2 separate regions of the Homo sapiens genome follow, and region 1 is linked to region 2. Evidence: fine-mapped expression QTL. Tissue or cell type: nasal epithelium. Region 2 holds a variant in brackets; the other region holds the start of a gene. All regions are shown on one strand. Distances are from middle to middle.

Evidence for each region. PIP is the estimated chance that this variant, and not a neighbour inherited with it, causes the effect.
Region 1: it holds the start of PPP1R1C, and the variant in region 2 is fine-mapped to the expression of PPP1R1C in nasal epithelium (TOPMed, PIP above 0.99).

Annotation. Positions count from the first base shown.
Region 1 is chr2:181,981,075-181,989,074 of GRCh38, forward strand. PPP1R1C (protein phosphatase 1 regulatory inhibitor subunit 1C) reads left to right here and starts at 4,779. Exons shown (of 5, transcript NM_001080545.3): 1 at 4,779-5,117; 2 at 6,765-6,825. The coding sequence starts at 5,037.
Region 2 is chr2:182,150,323-182,158,322 of GRCh38, forward strand. The region is part of intron 13 of PDE1A (phosphodiesterase 1A); the gene reads right to left. Among named protein-coding and RNA genes, the nearest start is that of PPP1R1C, 170 kb to the left of the region's middle. The variant T/A (reference allele first, on the strand shown) is at 3,349.

The DNA of each region.
Region 1 (8,000 bases), 170 kb before region 2:
CCCGCCACTACGCCCGGCTAATTTTTTGTATTTTTAGTAGAGACGGGGTTTCACCGTTTTAGCCGGGATGGTCTCGATCTCCTGACCTCGTGATCCGCCCGCCTCGGCCTCCCAAAGTGCTGGGATTACAGGCGTGAGCCACCGTGCCCGGCCAAGGAGAAGTTTTAAAGAACACAGTAGGCACTAAATAAATGTGGAATGAATGAATCATTGATGTTTGCCTTTAAGCCTGATAGAGATTGCAAGTATTTTATACTTAAGTGCTGTGGGAATTCAGATTTTAATATGAGATTGCAATATAGTGAGCTTAGTCTGGTAAGGCTTCTTATAGCTGTAGATCTGAAAAAATATCATATTTAAAATTGCATGGTTGAACTTATAGGACATTCTGAAAGAGTTAAAATATGGCTAATAATTTCCATGGGGGAAATTTAATTTAAATGAGCACTTGGAAAGAGTGGTTCATTTCACTTATATTACTGGGATTCGACCACATTTTATAGATAGGCCTCTTTGCCTCAATTAGGTATCAATGGTTCAGTAATAATTTAATATTAATATGAAGGTTTTGGAGTTCTCCAACAGGTTACATTGAATATAATTGAGATAATTCTATGAAAGCCCAATAATATTGTCACTCTCCCATGCATCTGTTTTCTTTGATGGAGGAAATGAATGAAGTTACAACTAGAATTGAAGGAGGACATACAAGGGAGTGCATCTGAAATGTGACTGCCAGCATTTGGGTTTTAAATAGAAGAGACAGAAAATCATTGCATTAGGGCTAGAAATCTTTTCAATGGACTCATATCTAGATGATATTGTATTTTTTCTGCTTTTGTTCATTATTGTATTTCCAGCATTTAATGTAGTCATGTGTAATACATATTTGCTTTTATTTTTGATGGCATTTAGTTAGCCAACCAATTGTTAAACAAAGTCACGTCTCATATATCTGCATAACTTTCAAGATTCATGAATTCAAGATATTTAAAACAAAGCCTGGAATAGAAAATACATTAAAAAGTTTAAAAATTTGCTTTTCCCTCTCCACCCCTCTCCTCTCTTCCCCTTTCTTTCCCTTCTCTTCCCTCAAAGAAAGCACTTGTTAATATCAGGTAACAATTAAAAAACAAGTATTGACAGTTATCAGATAAAGAAAAATAACTCTAAAAACAGTCATAAGAACTATGTATCTATGGTATTTGGAGGCAGTTACTATAGCAAGAAATACTAACAGCAAGGTGTAGGGCTTGAAAGGGTGAGCCATAGTCTTTTGGAAAATTCAGTTTATTGGAACACCTTACGTTTCTTGATAGTATTAGATAAAGCCTAATTGGACTTATTTAGTAACTACTAGATGACGAGCATCTTGCTTGTTATGTTTATGTTTAAGATAGGATGGGATTTGCAGTCTAGGAGAAGAGGCAAAAGAAACACATAGGAAATTATTATAGAATAACATAAAACTATATATAATTAAATACCAGGAGAGGGAACAAATTGAGTGATTCTTCTTGTGTGGAGAATCTGAAGGTCTCTTTCTAAGGAGGTGGAATTAGAGAATGAATATAATTTGGGTTAAAAAAGGGAGCGGGGAGGCAGGATGGCTTCCAGGGAGGTAGGGGAGGCCACAGAAAGACTGGTGGTAAGGTGAACTGCGGCAGCCTGTAGGAGGGTCTTGAGGAATCATGCAAAGTAGGGCAAGATAGATATTATAGTGTAAAATCAGGAAGGCCTAATGGCCTATTTTCCTAATGTTTTTCCATCTTTACTCCAGTATCACTTACTTTGAAGAGAGACTATAGTTGTTGCTTGTTCTAGAGGCCTTTTTAATCTTTAATGATTGAACCCATTACTTTTAAAGAGCAACGGAGAGGATTCCTTTTTCAGTCAGTTTGGTGGTACAACATCCAACTTTAGGCTCTCCTTTCTATATTGATATCTAATTTGCAATGATTGAGTATCTTGATTAATAGTATCCTAGTCATGCTACTTGCTTCTCTTTCATTCATATACCACGTCATCTTAAGATCTTTTACCATGGAATTGATGTGGTCAGAACCTCTAACCACTGCGGAGATTCTGTTGACTGCCACTGACTTCTCTACTGGCCTTATATTATAGTGGCCATCATGATGCTGTTGTGATTAAAAGCCCAAGCCCTATGCAAAATTGCCCGGGTTTGAAACTGGGCTTTGCCATATATTAGCTGGATGACCCCGGACAAATTATCTAAACTCTCTGACTCCCGATTACCTAATTTTAAATTGAGGATAGCAATAATATCTACCTCAAACAGTTGTCGGAATAAATTAATGCAGATAAAGCACTTAGAATAATTCCTGGCACATGGTATCATATAAGGGTTAATTATTACTCTTGTCTCTAATAGGGATAAAAAAATGTGCACTTAATATTTAGGAAAATTATACCCCCCATGCAAACTCTATATTAACATTTTTTAGATTATTTTACATTTAAGTTGCATTTTAAGTAGTTCTTCAAGTAAGAATTTAGCTTTAAAAGGACTTCAAATACCTTTTAACACAATCTCTCCTCTAGTGCCATAGCAAAAGGCCTGGTGTGGAGTAGACTATAGTATCTACTCAACAAATATTTGCTATGTGAATAAATAAAGTTGCAAAATACTAAACATTCAAAAGACATGTAGGTAGTTATTATGATAAATAGAGTTATGCTTCATTCTTTAAGAATACAGAGAGGTGAGTTTAAACCCAATGTGGAGAACAGTAAATCTACAAAGGCTTCCTAGAAGCAATGATACTTAACTGAATCTTAATGGACACACAGGAGTTGGCCTCATAAAAAACAAGAAGCTTAAAGGGTCTAGATAGCCCATTTACAATATTGTCTCTGATCAACCTATTCAAAATAGGGCAATTAGTTAATGAGAACCATTTTATTGGTATTTATACCAAACACATATATGAAATTTCACTTTATCACCTATTATTCTAAGTGGAATCAAATTATTCCAAGTAGATAGATATTCTTAGTGATTCTGGTTGAAAATGTGTATGTTGAAGCCTTTTGAAAAATCTGGCTGAAAGAAAAATAATAGCTATCTTTTATTGAGTGATTCCGTGCTGGCCTTGTAATGAGCTCTTTTCAGGAATTGAGTAATCTAAACCTCACAAGAAGAAAGTTCTCCTACTGCCCAAACTGATAAACTTGGTAAGTAGCAGAGCTAGAGCTTGAACTCAAGGTTGCCAAGTGCATGTTCTTAATTATTACATTATGTGAAGTTTTGTATTAACTCCTCACTAAAAATACTGTCTTGTCTTGCTTTCCTTTTATATAATTTGAAGATATATTCAAAGAAATAACTTCATTAATGATATCAATTTAGATTTTATTTCTGGAGACTTTTGTAAACTGTTACATAAAATGTAATTTATAAATTTCCCTTCGACACTACACGGATAAACTCATCACAAGATTTCTTGCTAGTCAGCACTGTTCTCCACTAAAAGTGCTTTCACATCCACATCTTTGCTTTTTCCCCTAGTGAATATAGAAAACTACTTCAATAATGCATATTCCTTTCTATATTCCTTCAACAGAATGTTGCCTATTTAAATCATTAAGATGGATTCCTAGTACAGAATCAAAATTTAAAAAATAAAAACTTCAATTGTAAATACCTGGAATCATAGTCGATGTCTAAATATATTAAGTACATCCAAAAACATATTTACAAATCTAGTATTCATCACATAATGCCTCTCAAGAAAGCAGAGATCTCAAGCAGTTTCATTTTCACACTTCCTTCATAAAAGTATTCGAATGCATGAAGGCCATCTGGCTATGTTACTACCTCCCCTTTAACATTAACTAATGTGGCAATCAGGCTAGTGTCCCACTGTTCCCTGACCACTAGCCAATATCAACCCTCTGAACATTACCCACTTCATGCTTTTTTCAAGTCCTTATCTTTACATACATTTCTACTGTTGACAACAAGCCATAATGTTGACTACCATTAGGTTTCTACTAATGTTTTCCAGTCATATTCTTCCAAGTCAGAGAATGTAACTGGCTCCACCAGGAAATAAAATAGAGGTCATTGAAGCAGCAGTGACTTCCAAGCTGTTTGCTAAATTTAGCAGCACAATACTTTCCACTCTAATGAAAACTGTGAACTGCAATTTTAGAATGTTGGAACAGGATGGGACTTTAAAGGTCATTGAGTCCAATCCCCTCATTTTTCTGATGGAAGTGTGGAGGCCTAGACGTAGCCAGTAATTTTCTGGAGGCCACAGAGCTTGTTAATTATGAAGATGGAACTCGAACTAAGATCTGCTCAGCCCTGCAGTAATGCTGCCCTCACTACACCACAGATGCTCTGCCTCCTAGGATGAGTTTAAACTAACCAGATCTTATAGCATAAACATAGCTGATATTATTGGTTGTGGCTTACCCTCCATGGCCATTCAACTGTTTCGTGGCTGAATGTGAAATAGCAAAGGTATCTGACTTATAAGTTGCTGAGAGAAATGATTCCATACCTAAACCCTGCCCCCAACTCTAAAAACTTCCTGCTTGATGTTCATCAATAATGAATGGCCCATCCCTGCAATACTCAGAGGGAGCTTACATTGCACTTTTGAGCAGCCGGTTAGTAATGTACAGTGGATAGAGCCTTTCTTTCAAATCCCAGGGCAGTGGGTCCTTCAAGGCTAGCATTGCATTTTCAATTAGCTGCTGAGTGAATGCTTGGCATGTGTATTAGTGAAGAGGCACACAATTAGCGTATTGTTCCTTTCTGTATTGTGCTGAGAGGATCCAAGGGATTGGTGGGGGAACAGGCAAGCCAGGCATCACCGTGGATGTTGAAGAAGGGGGTTACTCAAACCTCGGCATCTTCACTTGCTCGATCTGGAATTACAGCTATTTATTACGAAGCACTCTGTGTGGCTTAGTGGAGTGTGTCTGAGGAAACACATCCCGGACACCACTTAGGGTTAGTCTTTCTGAGCTCTTCACATCTCTGACTAATTATCATCATTACCATGGAGCCCAACAGTCCCAAAAAGATACAGTTTGCCGTGCCTGTATTCCAGAGTCAGATTGCACCTGAAGCAGCAGAGCAGGTATGTGAAATTGCATGGAGAACCATTCCTGTACATAAGGTAATATGAACATGCATTCTGGTTATTAATTGAAAGGTTCTTTACCTTTTGATTTTGCTAACTCTGACTTTCAAGATAATGTAAACAAGAAATAAGTTGGTTTTTACACATACTTGTATTTAAATTGCATTGGGAGAACTATTGTCTAAAATGTAACACTTCATTTGATACAAAATTAGCACCTCTGAGGGGAAAATGGCTCTGTAAGCAATTCAGATATGGATTCATAAATCTGTTCATTTTTGCTCATTAAAATAACAGTTTCAACATTTAGAGCAACTTTTAAAAATTATCAAAATGAGCAACATTTTATTTCATTTTTTATAAAATAAAATGATTGATTTAGCAATAAAATCATTAAATCCTGCAATAGTTTGAGACTATAGGCCTAATACTTTATTTTCATATGTTTTATTATTGTGGACACAAAACAATGATTATAAGTTTATATAATATATTACAGCTAGGATTTGTAGCTTTTTGTACAGTTTTAAAATCGTTTTGTTCAGACATTACAAACAGTGTTTTAACATTTCCTAGATTCTTTGTCCATGTCTAATATTGGTTTACATCTGTATCACCTTTCATATTCAGATTTACTTAGATTCTTGATGCAATGGCATCTCTTAGAACTGCAACTGTGAGGAGGCAAAAGCAAAGAAATTTATGAGGACATCAACCTAATCCATTCATTTCTTAAAACTTAAATTATTCTTGAATCCTTTTCCAAGTATTTGATATAAAGTCTTAAAAATAATTATTTAATCCGTGACTCATAGTGTTTCAGGATGTTTTGAAATCTGAGGTAGATGCACCTAGACTCAGGCCAGATAAATGTATCCTTGAACATGTGTCTATCCATGCTGAATGGGATGTTGCTTCTATCTTGGACAGGATGTCATTGATAAATTTTATTATCTATCCTACTGACACTTACTTTGGGTATTTACCCATAAATGAATATAATAAACAAATAAAGGATATTATATTCAAGGGATTCTGACAATACTATGCTCCTGTAACTCTTAAAATGAAAAAAAAAAACTTTAGAGTTTGTAATAAGTTGCATATTCTCATAAGATCCATATTTATTCTTCATTTGTTTATTTGTTCTAAATATTATACTAGAAAATAAAAAAGTTAACAAAATTAATTGAAATTCAAAGCTTATGCTGTTGATTTAACTCTGGTACCTGCTAGAAATAGGTTTCCAAGCTCTTCCTTATCCTGTTTAAAAATAAGGGTAATGAATCTTGAAAGCACCACCAATGTTATGAGGCTCCAAGCAAGCCACTAACATTATCAGGTCAACCCTGTACCTTCATTGTAAATTAATTTTCTGTTGTATCATTCAGTTGTATATAATTATTTCTTTTCCGTGGAAATGTAGCTTTTTGGTCAAAGAGGGTGATACTTCTATCAGACAGTTCAATTCTGTGGCTTTCTATTATTTCAAAATAAAATTAGTGAGCACCTTCCATGTGTCCTCCAGAAATTTGCTTTTGCATGTGGGGAAAAGATGAGGGTGAGACAGCTTTGCAAGCTGCAGAGTAACCTGGAGCAGTGTCTAATACTCACTGATATTAGCTGGGCTTTTGTCGTTCACAGATCAGGAAAAGAAGACCTACACCAGCATCACTTGTGATTCTCAATGAGCATAACCCCCCAGGTAAAGAAGCATGATGTGTTTCACACTGATGGAACAGAATGGAATTGTTTAAAGAACATCAAAGTACATGTCGTACTGAAAAGTTTCAATTTAGGATTTCACAGTTAGCAATACTCTAGAAAGCTAATCTATAAAATGGATCGTAAACAGAATCAGAAATAAATATTACAGGAATAATCTCAAGCCACAGCCTGTATTTCCTCTAGAATATCATAAGTGATGATATGCTATGAAATATTTTGCTAGCACTGGCTGTCATATGTTCAGGTGTTTGTATGGAACCTGGATTACTGCTTATTAATGAGGCTGGTGGAAAGCTGTTTAATTAGGTTTAAAAGCTCAAATTACAGCCCTAGAGATGCTTATATCTTTACAGAGTAAGTTTTTTATATGGAAAAGGTTGACATGGGGTGGGCAATGACCCAGCGTTGGCTTCAGCTTTGCTGATGACGTCATCTCTGAATAATGCAATTGACAAGTAACCAGATCAATTTTCAGCACTGCCTATTTGAGAGCCATTCTGAATGGCTGAATCCATTTGTTGAGGTTTTATTTTCCATTTCCTGTAAAAATGAAAACCGCATTATTATTCCGGATAAAAGACTATGATCTGTAATCCACAAACATTATTTACTTATTGAAGCGGGGTGATTTTTAGTCTCACATTTAAGTGCTGCTTCTGGATATACAAGTAGGATAGGAAAGGTCATGACATTAATTTGCAACCAGGCAGAACTTGGTGTTGGATTTTTTTGCAGGTATAAACAATAATGGGTGGACAAAAGGAGTTTAAACAGTGGAAACATAATATGTCTAATAATAGACTGTAGCGAGTGATCTAAGAATACCAGGGTGAAATAGTCCTTGACTTTTTCAGACTCTTTTCTAATTAGAGAAACATATAAAAAGAACGTAAACTAATAGGCTATTCATCATTTAGCCCAAATCCAAGAAAATTTTCAGGTGATGGAAAATAAGTAAGCTAATTTATTTCTGTTGAAAATGAATAATTATAATTTGATCCTATAACTTTAGGGTGCCATTGCATTTAAAATTATTTTCAAATATATTATCTCAATAAATCTTAACTTACTTATATTTGGTTAAATAAGAGGTGCAAATGATATGTAATTATAATTCTAAAATAAATACAAGTATAAAGATAAGTCTTCTCG
Region 2 (8,000 bases):
GAATAATCGGTTGACTTTCTACAATGCAGATCATAAATAGATAACCTGAAGTCAAGACGGTTGGCTTTTAATTCACTGGTACTTCAAGAAGACCAGTAACGTCACTTTTGAATTTCATCTTACTGAAAGGATTTGCAATGTCATATATATAGAAAGCTGCTCATTAGGAATGAATGCAAGTGGTCTGTTCAAAGAAATTGCATATAAACTTGTTTGTCAGCCAGGAAAAACAGTGAAAATAAAGGAACATCAATAATTCTGTTCAGTTCAAAGAGTTTTAGGTGTTCATCTCAACCAGTTTCAAAAGTTCAAATCTAACAAAATAATTTGTAAAATGATAGAAATTTTATGGGTTTGGTTTGTAAATAGAGTCTCAATTCTTCAAGGAGCAGGGAGGGGATAGTTGTTATAGGAGAGACAGACTTACCAAAACCAACAGAAATCCTCTAAATTTAGCTAATCTAGGCTTTTAGATTGCAATTTAAGCTCACTTTTACCATATTAGAATCATAATGTGTTAGACTCATGGTGCTGTGAATAAGACTTGCAGGGAATTACACCAAACACACTATCAAGTGGATATTAGAGACTTTTGTCCTCCAGTCAGGGTCTCACTAACTATCTGAGAAATAACCTGTTAGGATAAATTATTATACAATTGAAAATATACCAATAATAATCAATACTTTGTGAACACCAACTAGGTGGCAGACACTATTCTAAGTGCTTCACTCACCTCACTTCCCTGAATCCTCACAGCAAACTTATTATTATTATTTTTTGAGACAAAGTTTTGCTCTTGTTGTCCAGGCTGGAGTGCAATGGTGCAATCTCAGCCCATTGCAACCTCCGCTTCCTGGGTTCAAGCGATTCTCCTGCTTCAGCCTCTCAAGTAGCTGGGACTATAGGCATCTGCCACCACACCCAGCTAATTTTTTTGTTTTTTGTTTTTTTGCATTTTTCATAGACACAGGTTTCACCATTTTGGCCAAGCTGGTCTTGAACTCCTGACCTTCAGGTGATCCACCTGCCTTGGCCTCCCAAAGTGCTGGGATTACAGGTGTGAGCCACCACGCCCTGCCCCCCTCACAGCAATCTTATAAAGTAAGGTTGAACAATTGTGGAAGCTGAGACATAGCTTGAAAACTATCTGCCCAAAGTCTTAAAGCCAGCAAGGGGCTGGATCCTCTGACAAAGGACAACCAGAATCTTGGCCTCTAGTTTGACTGTTTCCCAAGCTACAATCATGAGTAACCTACCCTCACCAATTCTGCTGTATTCATATGCCACCTGTCCTCTCGCTTACCTAATATTTTTCTTTAAATAGACTTTAAATATACTCCTTTAAAAATTAGTTTTGTTCTCAATAGTAATTTTCCTACCACAGAAATAAATTTGTTGTTCTTTTTGTATTTTTCTAATACCTCAAATCCATAATTAAAAGATCATTTCTCATGTAGATATAAAAAACAAAATGATTTAATAGCTTATTTTGCACTCGTTATTTTTGACTTATCTAGCCCAACAATCCCTGCATGTAAGTGGGAAAATCATCATTATGATTCTCATTTTAGAGATGAGAAAGACATGATTAGAGGGGTAGCTGACTATTCCAACGCAAAATAGCCTAGGTGAATTTGGGAGACAGAATCACAAGCTATTCCTCAGAGCAATGCCCCAGTTAATTTTTTAAATTTAACAGCAATAATAAATGGTGTTTGAAAAATACCACAAAATTGGTTTGTGCAGTCTTTTCAACAGAAATATTAGCTCTGAGTAACACTGCATTCTTATTTTTTCATAAGAAGAATATTACCTTTGCTATGTATAATAGTATTTCCTTAGGCATATCTCTAGGTTGCTTCAGCTTTACTTTTAGACCATTTATATAGTTTATGTTGCAGATAACTAGAATAAATTGGTGATCAAAGATTAAAGTTACAGTCATTGGAAAAATGTAATGTAGGATAAATCAGATATTCTGATTTTAATTGGTGTTTTGGCATCCATATAATGTAGTTTGCCTTACATGCTGGGATAAAGAAATCTATTTTAATACCAGGGGAAATACTTTCCCTATTTTTTTCCTCTTTTTTTTTTTTTTTTTTTTTTTTTGAGATGGAGTCTCGCTCTTGTTGCCCAGGCTGGAGTGCAATGGCATCATCTTGGCTCACTGCAACCTCTGCCTCCCAGGTTCAAGTGATTCTCCTGCCTCACCCTCCCAAGTAGCTGGGATTACAGGTACCTGCCACCAGGCCCAGCTAATTTTTGTATTTTTAGTAGAGACGGGGTTTCGCCATGTTGGCCAGGCTGGTCTTGAACTCCTGACCTCAGGTGATCCACCCGCCTCAGCCTCCCAAAGTGCTGGGATTACAGGTGTGAGCCACTGTGCCCAGCCTATTTTTTTCCTCTTAATTTTAATGCATTTGGAGAAGAAGCAGTTGTATGTGTTCGTTTACTTTGCAGTATGCGTGAAGGCAACAGTAAGAGAAGACAGGACTGCACACTAGGCAGAAGAAAAAGAAGGCTGTGAAAACAAAATTCCACTTAATTCCAAAATGTGCTAGCTCCAACCCTGTAAAATTAGAGCAAGTAATACCTTAAAGTGTTACATAAGACACAAATCAAGAAATAGGTAAATTATGTATTGGTTCATTAAAGAAAAACAGAAACATCTGATTTTGAGGAAAATACAACAATTTACTTTAGCAAGCTTTAGACTTACACCCAATGCATATGTGCTAGGCATCTAGATATGTAGAGAGTTTTACAGGTGATCTACGGAAAATGAAAAATTTATATGTATATTCATCTGCAAATCAGTGAAATTATACTCAACTTGGGGAAGCTAATACCTTGTCAGATAGCCAGAAATCTTAGTGTTTAAGTTACACTGAAATAGTTTAACAATGTGGGAGGTAGTTCAGCTGGCTCCTTGAAAGAGTTTTCTAAAATTGGGTCTGAAGGTTGTATATGTTTTGTTGGCACACAGGTAGGAGTATGCTGTTAGTGAAGGGATGAGGAGGTACGGTGGAGCCTGAGCAAAGGCAGAGGGTTGAAAAGAAAAATGATATGCCAGGAAAGAAATGAAGCCCAGCTGAGAAAACTACTGTGAGCTCCTACCCACTGGTTGAAGCAATTATTTCTCCATCAGAGTGTCATTCTTTTAGAGGAAGGCTCTGACACCTATTAAAATGTTATTATTCCTAGAAGGGAACTTTGTGACTGAATCGCAGATCTTCTTAAAAGAAAGCAGGCTCTGAGAGCAGGGAGATGATAAGAATGCACAGGCATTGATTGAAGGTAGAGAAGTTGGGGGTGGCAATGGAGAGAGAAGCTCTGGAGTGG[T/A]GAAGTTAAGACCATTCAAATCACACTTTATCTCTTGTAAAGAGTAGCAGGAATCAGCCATGGAAATGATCAGATTTGGCTCGTAGAGGCAAGTTGATGTGAAAGGCAACATGGGGCTGCTCTGATTTCTCAATTAGGATGAAAAATGGGGTGAAAATTGAGTCTGATGTTGGAGATACTGAAGGGTAGGAGGTTTGGAGGCAGGTAAGGGATGAGAAATTACTTAATGGGTATAATGTACACTATTCGGGTGATGGCTGCACTTGAGTGTGAGAGAAATGCCAAAAATTCACATATTCTTTATCTTTATAAATAGGACAAATTAACTGTAGAATATTGATTTTAACTATCTACCTAAGTGAGTTTCAAAAGCTAAAACTTGGAAAAAATAATCTGTAAAATGATGCAAACATTTTGGCTTTCCTTTAAATAATCTGAATAAACTATTCTGGTTGATTGAGTTTTCTTTGTAAAGCTGGATTAAGAAAACAAACAAACAACAACAACAACAAAACAAACTTCAATTGCCTTTAGTAAAAATGTCAATACATAAATCCATTTCTGTGCCTGAATGGAGAATGTTGAATATGATTGAATTTGTTTTGATGATGATAATCATGTAAAAACAAAAACAAAAAATCCTGAGGTGCATTGTTCTAAACATAAACCATTAATTTTCACTCTCCTATACATGTACACTAGATATATACGTGTCAAATAAACATGTATCATTCATCCTTATTATGAATGGCTCTAAGAAGTTGATATGGTTTAGCTGTGTCCCCACCCATATCTCACCTTGAACTTAATAATCCCCACGTGTGAAGGGCAGGGCCAGGTGAAGATAATTGAATCATGGGGGCAGTTTCCCCATACTGTTCTCACGGTAGTGAATAAGTCTCACGAGATCTGATGGTTTAATAAATGGGAGGTCTCCTGCTTCTTGCCTCTCTTGCCTGCCGCCATGTAAGCCACACCTTTGCTTCTCCTTTGCCTTCTGCCATGATTGTGATGCCTCCTCAGACATGTGGAGCCGTGAGTCCGTTAAACCTCTTTCTTTTATAAATTACCTAGTCTCAAGTACGTCTTTATTAGCAGTGTGAGAACAGACTACTACAGAAATCATTTAAAAAACAATTCTTAAATTTTCTGGTTTGTTACCATTTCTCAATTTACAAGTTAAAAAATTAATTGAAGGATCTACTTTCAATGTGGAATTTTATAACATAATACTACTACTAACAAATTATTTTTCAAGTTGCTTAACTTTAAGAATGTCAGAAAAAAACAAGGCATTCATATTATGTAATTTTACCACTTATCTGAAATCTCTCACCTATAATTTTTCATTGTTCTCTTTTTTTTTTAATGGGCCCAAACATGAATATAAAAAAATGTCCAATTTTAATTCTGCTTTTTTTTTTTTTTTTTTTAAGAGAGGGTCCCACTCTGGTTACCCAGGCTGGAGTGCAATGGTGCCATCATGGCTCACTGCAGCCTCCACCTCCTGGGCTCAGTTGATCCTCCCAACTTCAGACTCCCAAGTAGCTGGAACTACACAAGCACACCACCATGCCCAGGTACTTTTTTATATTTTCTGTAGAGATGGGGTTTCGTCATGTTGCCCAGGCTGGTCTTGAATTCCTGGACTCAAGCAATCTGCTCATCTCGGCCTCCAGTAGTGTTGGGATTACGGGCATGAGCCACCATGTCCAGCTGGGAAATTCTGGCTCTTTATGCAATAACCTTAAAATGATGTAATACACAACCACATTTATATTTTAAATTCTTCTATCTGACTAAATATGGACTAGATATATACATGTAGGATAAACATGTATAATTCATCTTTATAATGAATGGCTCTAGGAAATTGATATGGTTTGGCTGTGTCCCCACCTATATCTCACCTTGAACTATAATAAGCCCCACATGTCAGCCAGGTGCAGTGGCTCATGCCTGTAATCCCAGAACTTTGGGAGGCAGAGCCTGGTGGATCACCTGAGGCCGGGAGTTTGAGATCAGCCTGACCAACAAGGAGAAACCCCGTCTCTACTAAAAATACAGAAAATTAGCTGGGTGTTGTGACGCATGCCTGTAATCCCAGCTACTGGGGAGGCTGAGGCAGGAGAATTGCTTGAACCAGGGAGGCAGAGGTTGCAGTGAGCCGAGATTGCACCATTGCACTCCAGCCTGGGCAAAAAGAGAGAAACTCCGTCTCAATAATAATAATAATCCCCACAGCTCAAGGGCGGGGCCAGGTGAAGATAATTGAATCATGGTTGCAGTTTCTCCCATGCTGTTCTCATGGTAGTGAATAAGTCTCATGAGATCCAATGGTTTTATAAATGGGAACTCCCCTGCACAAGCTCTCTTGCCTGCCACCATGTAAGCCATGACTTTGCCATAATTGTGAGGCCTCACCAGCCATATCAATAATCTGTCTATATGTATTTTAGCATGAAGTGTTACTATAGCTCAAATTATCTAATCATAAGTTATCTGTGCAGGAAATAGCATAAGAGCATAACTTAGTAAGGAGGAATAACTTAAGTTTATAATTATTAAGAACAATATTAGTAGCAACAGTAAAAACAATAGTAAACATTCAGAAAATGCTTACTGTGTACCAAGCACTGTGCTTAGTGCTTCACATATTTTATCATCTTATCCTTTCAACACTTTTTTTTTTTTACCCAAGGTCATACACCATCTAAGTGACAGAGCTGGGCTTTCAACCCCAGAGCCATGAATTTTATTACTAAGTTGAAGAGTTTGGTAACATGGTGCTAAGGCTCTGACTCAAAGGGGAAAGTATCTATTGATTGGAAAGGGCGGGAGCATTCCTAGTCATCTGGAAAAGCACAACAGTGAAGTTTCCAGTTGGGAAATGTGGAGTAAACATGACATTTTTCATCTTCCTTCTCTAACAAGCTACTAGTATTTGAAATTCAGTTCTTCAGGGGTGGCTGAGTAGTGTGGTAGTAAGAAGTGTGAGCAGCATTTGTAAGAAATAAGATTATCTTTTTACTACTATTCTCTGTGATAAAACCAGCAGTAGAAGATAATCTAAAAAGAATCCAGCAGCAAGGCCTGCACAAGTCCTATACCCGTGGGGATTTCAAAGTAAAGGGCTGCTAATACTATAAAGGAGAAATAATAGACATTGGGACTCCAAGAATAATGAGAAGTTATTTTATTTAAAATCCAGTATAAATATATAACTGAAGTAAGTATCTATGCTTAAAAAATCAAAAGATGTAGAGGAGCACAAACCCTGTTATCATTTTTGTTTCGTTGAATTTTTTATTTTTTTATTATTATTATTATTTTATTTTATTTTATTTTATTTTTTTTTTTTTGAGACAGAGTCTTGCTCTGTCACCCAGGCTGGAGTGCAATGGTGCAATCTCGGCTCACTGCAACCTCCAGCTCCTGGGTTCAATCGATTCTCCTGGCTCAGCCTTCCCAGTAGCTGGGATTACAGGCACACGCCACCACGTCTGGATAATTTTTGTATTTTTAGTAGAGACAGGATTTCACCATGTTGGCCAGGCTGGTCTCAAACTCCTGACCTCAGGTGAACCACCTGCCTTGTCCTTCCGAAGTGCTGGGATTACAGGTGTGAGCCACTGTGACCAGCCTATTTTGATGAATTGTGACTCTCCATCCTGAAACACCATGGCTAAGCATCCATTGTAGATCTTAAAACTTCCCAAATTGTGCACACTTTGCATATTCAAACATAGCAAGAGCTATGAACTGTTTCTAACCTAGAGACTGCAAATATCACAAGTTTCTATAGACTCTAAGACCCAATTTTAGTGTTTATAATCAACAAACTCTTCAATGCAGAGGGCACTTCTTTGTATGAGTTTCCATCTAGGGAGGATGCGAGAAGAGTTAGGAAAGTAAGTTTCCTTTGATTTTTTTTCTCTTCGTTTTTTTCGTGGAGACTAAACCCACTTACAATCTTTACCAACCTAAATAATATTCACCATGTAAGTATCTGTTACAGAAGAACAAGTCATCAAATGCTGGTGGTATGCATAATCCAAAATTCTAGGAGTCTATAGATATCCCTGATGGTATTTTGTAAACACTGTTCAACAAATTTGTAAACTGAGTTGAATTGGAGCTACCAAATGCCCCCAGAAATAAATGTTTTTCCATCTCATCTTTTAGCTTGAAGCCACCAAATCTTTAAGAGGCTTTAGAGAGTTGGTAGTAGCTATGTTGATTGGGCCTAAGAATCAGCCAAGATAGAAATCAATTCCACATATTCAGCTATGCTTTAACCTGGGGTGAGAAAGTCTCTTGGCTTCTTACAAAAGTCTTTCCACGTTATTTCTTTCTCTGCTATGTACATGTCAATACCTAACTTTGGCTGGCTATGATGGGGGGTTATTTGATGGGATATGTGGAGAGAGCTAGCTTCATCTACTTAGAGTTTGTGAACGTAGTGGTGGAAGAAATTGCCTCCCTTGGATGTATATGCAAGTTGCTCCTATTGAAGTAAACTTGTAAATTCATGCTTTAAAATAAAAGCACTTTAAGCAATTAGTCACAAAGTACTTTATTGATCTACAACTTTCAGTCAGGATTATGAGAAGCAGTAGAATCTCTAATCTCTAAAGACTCATGTAACAGGT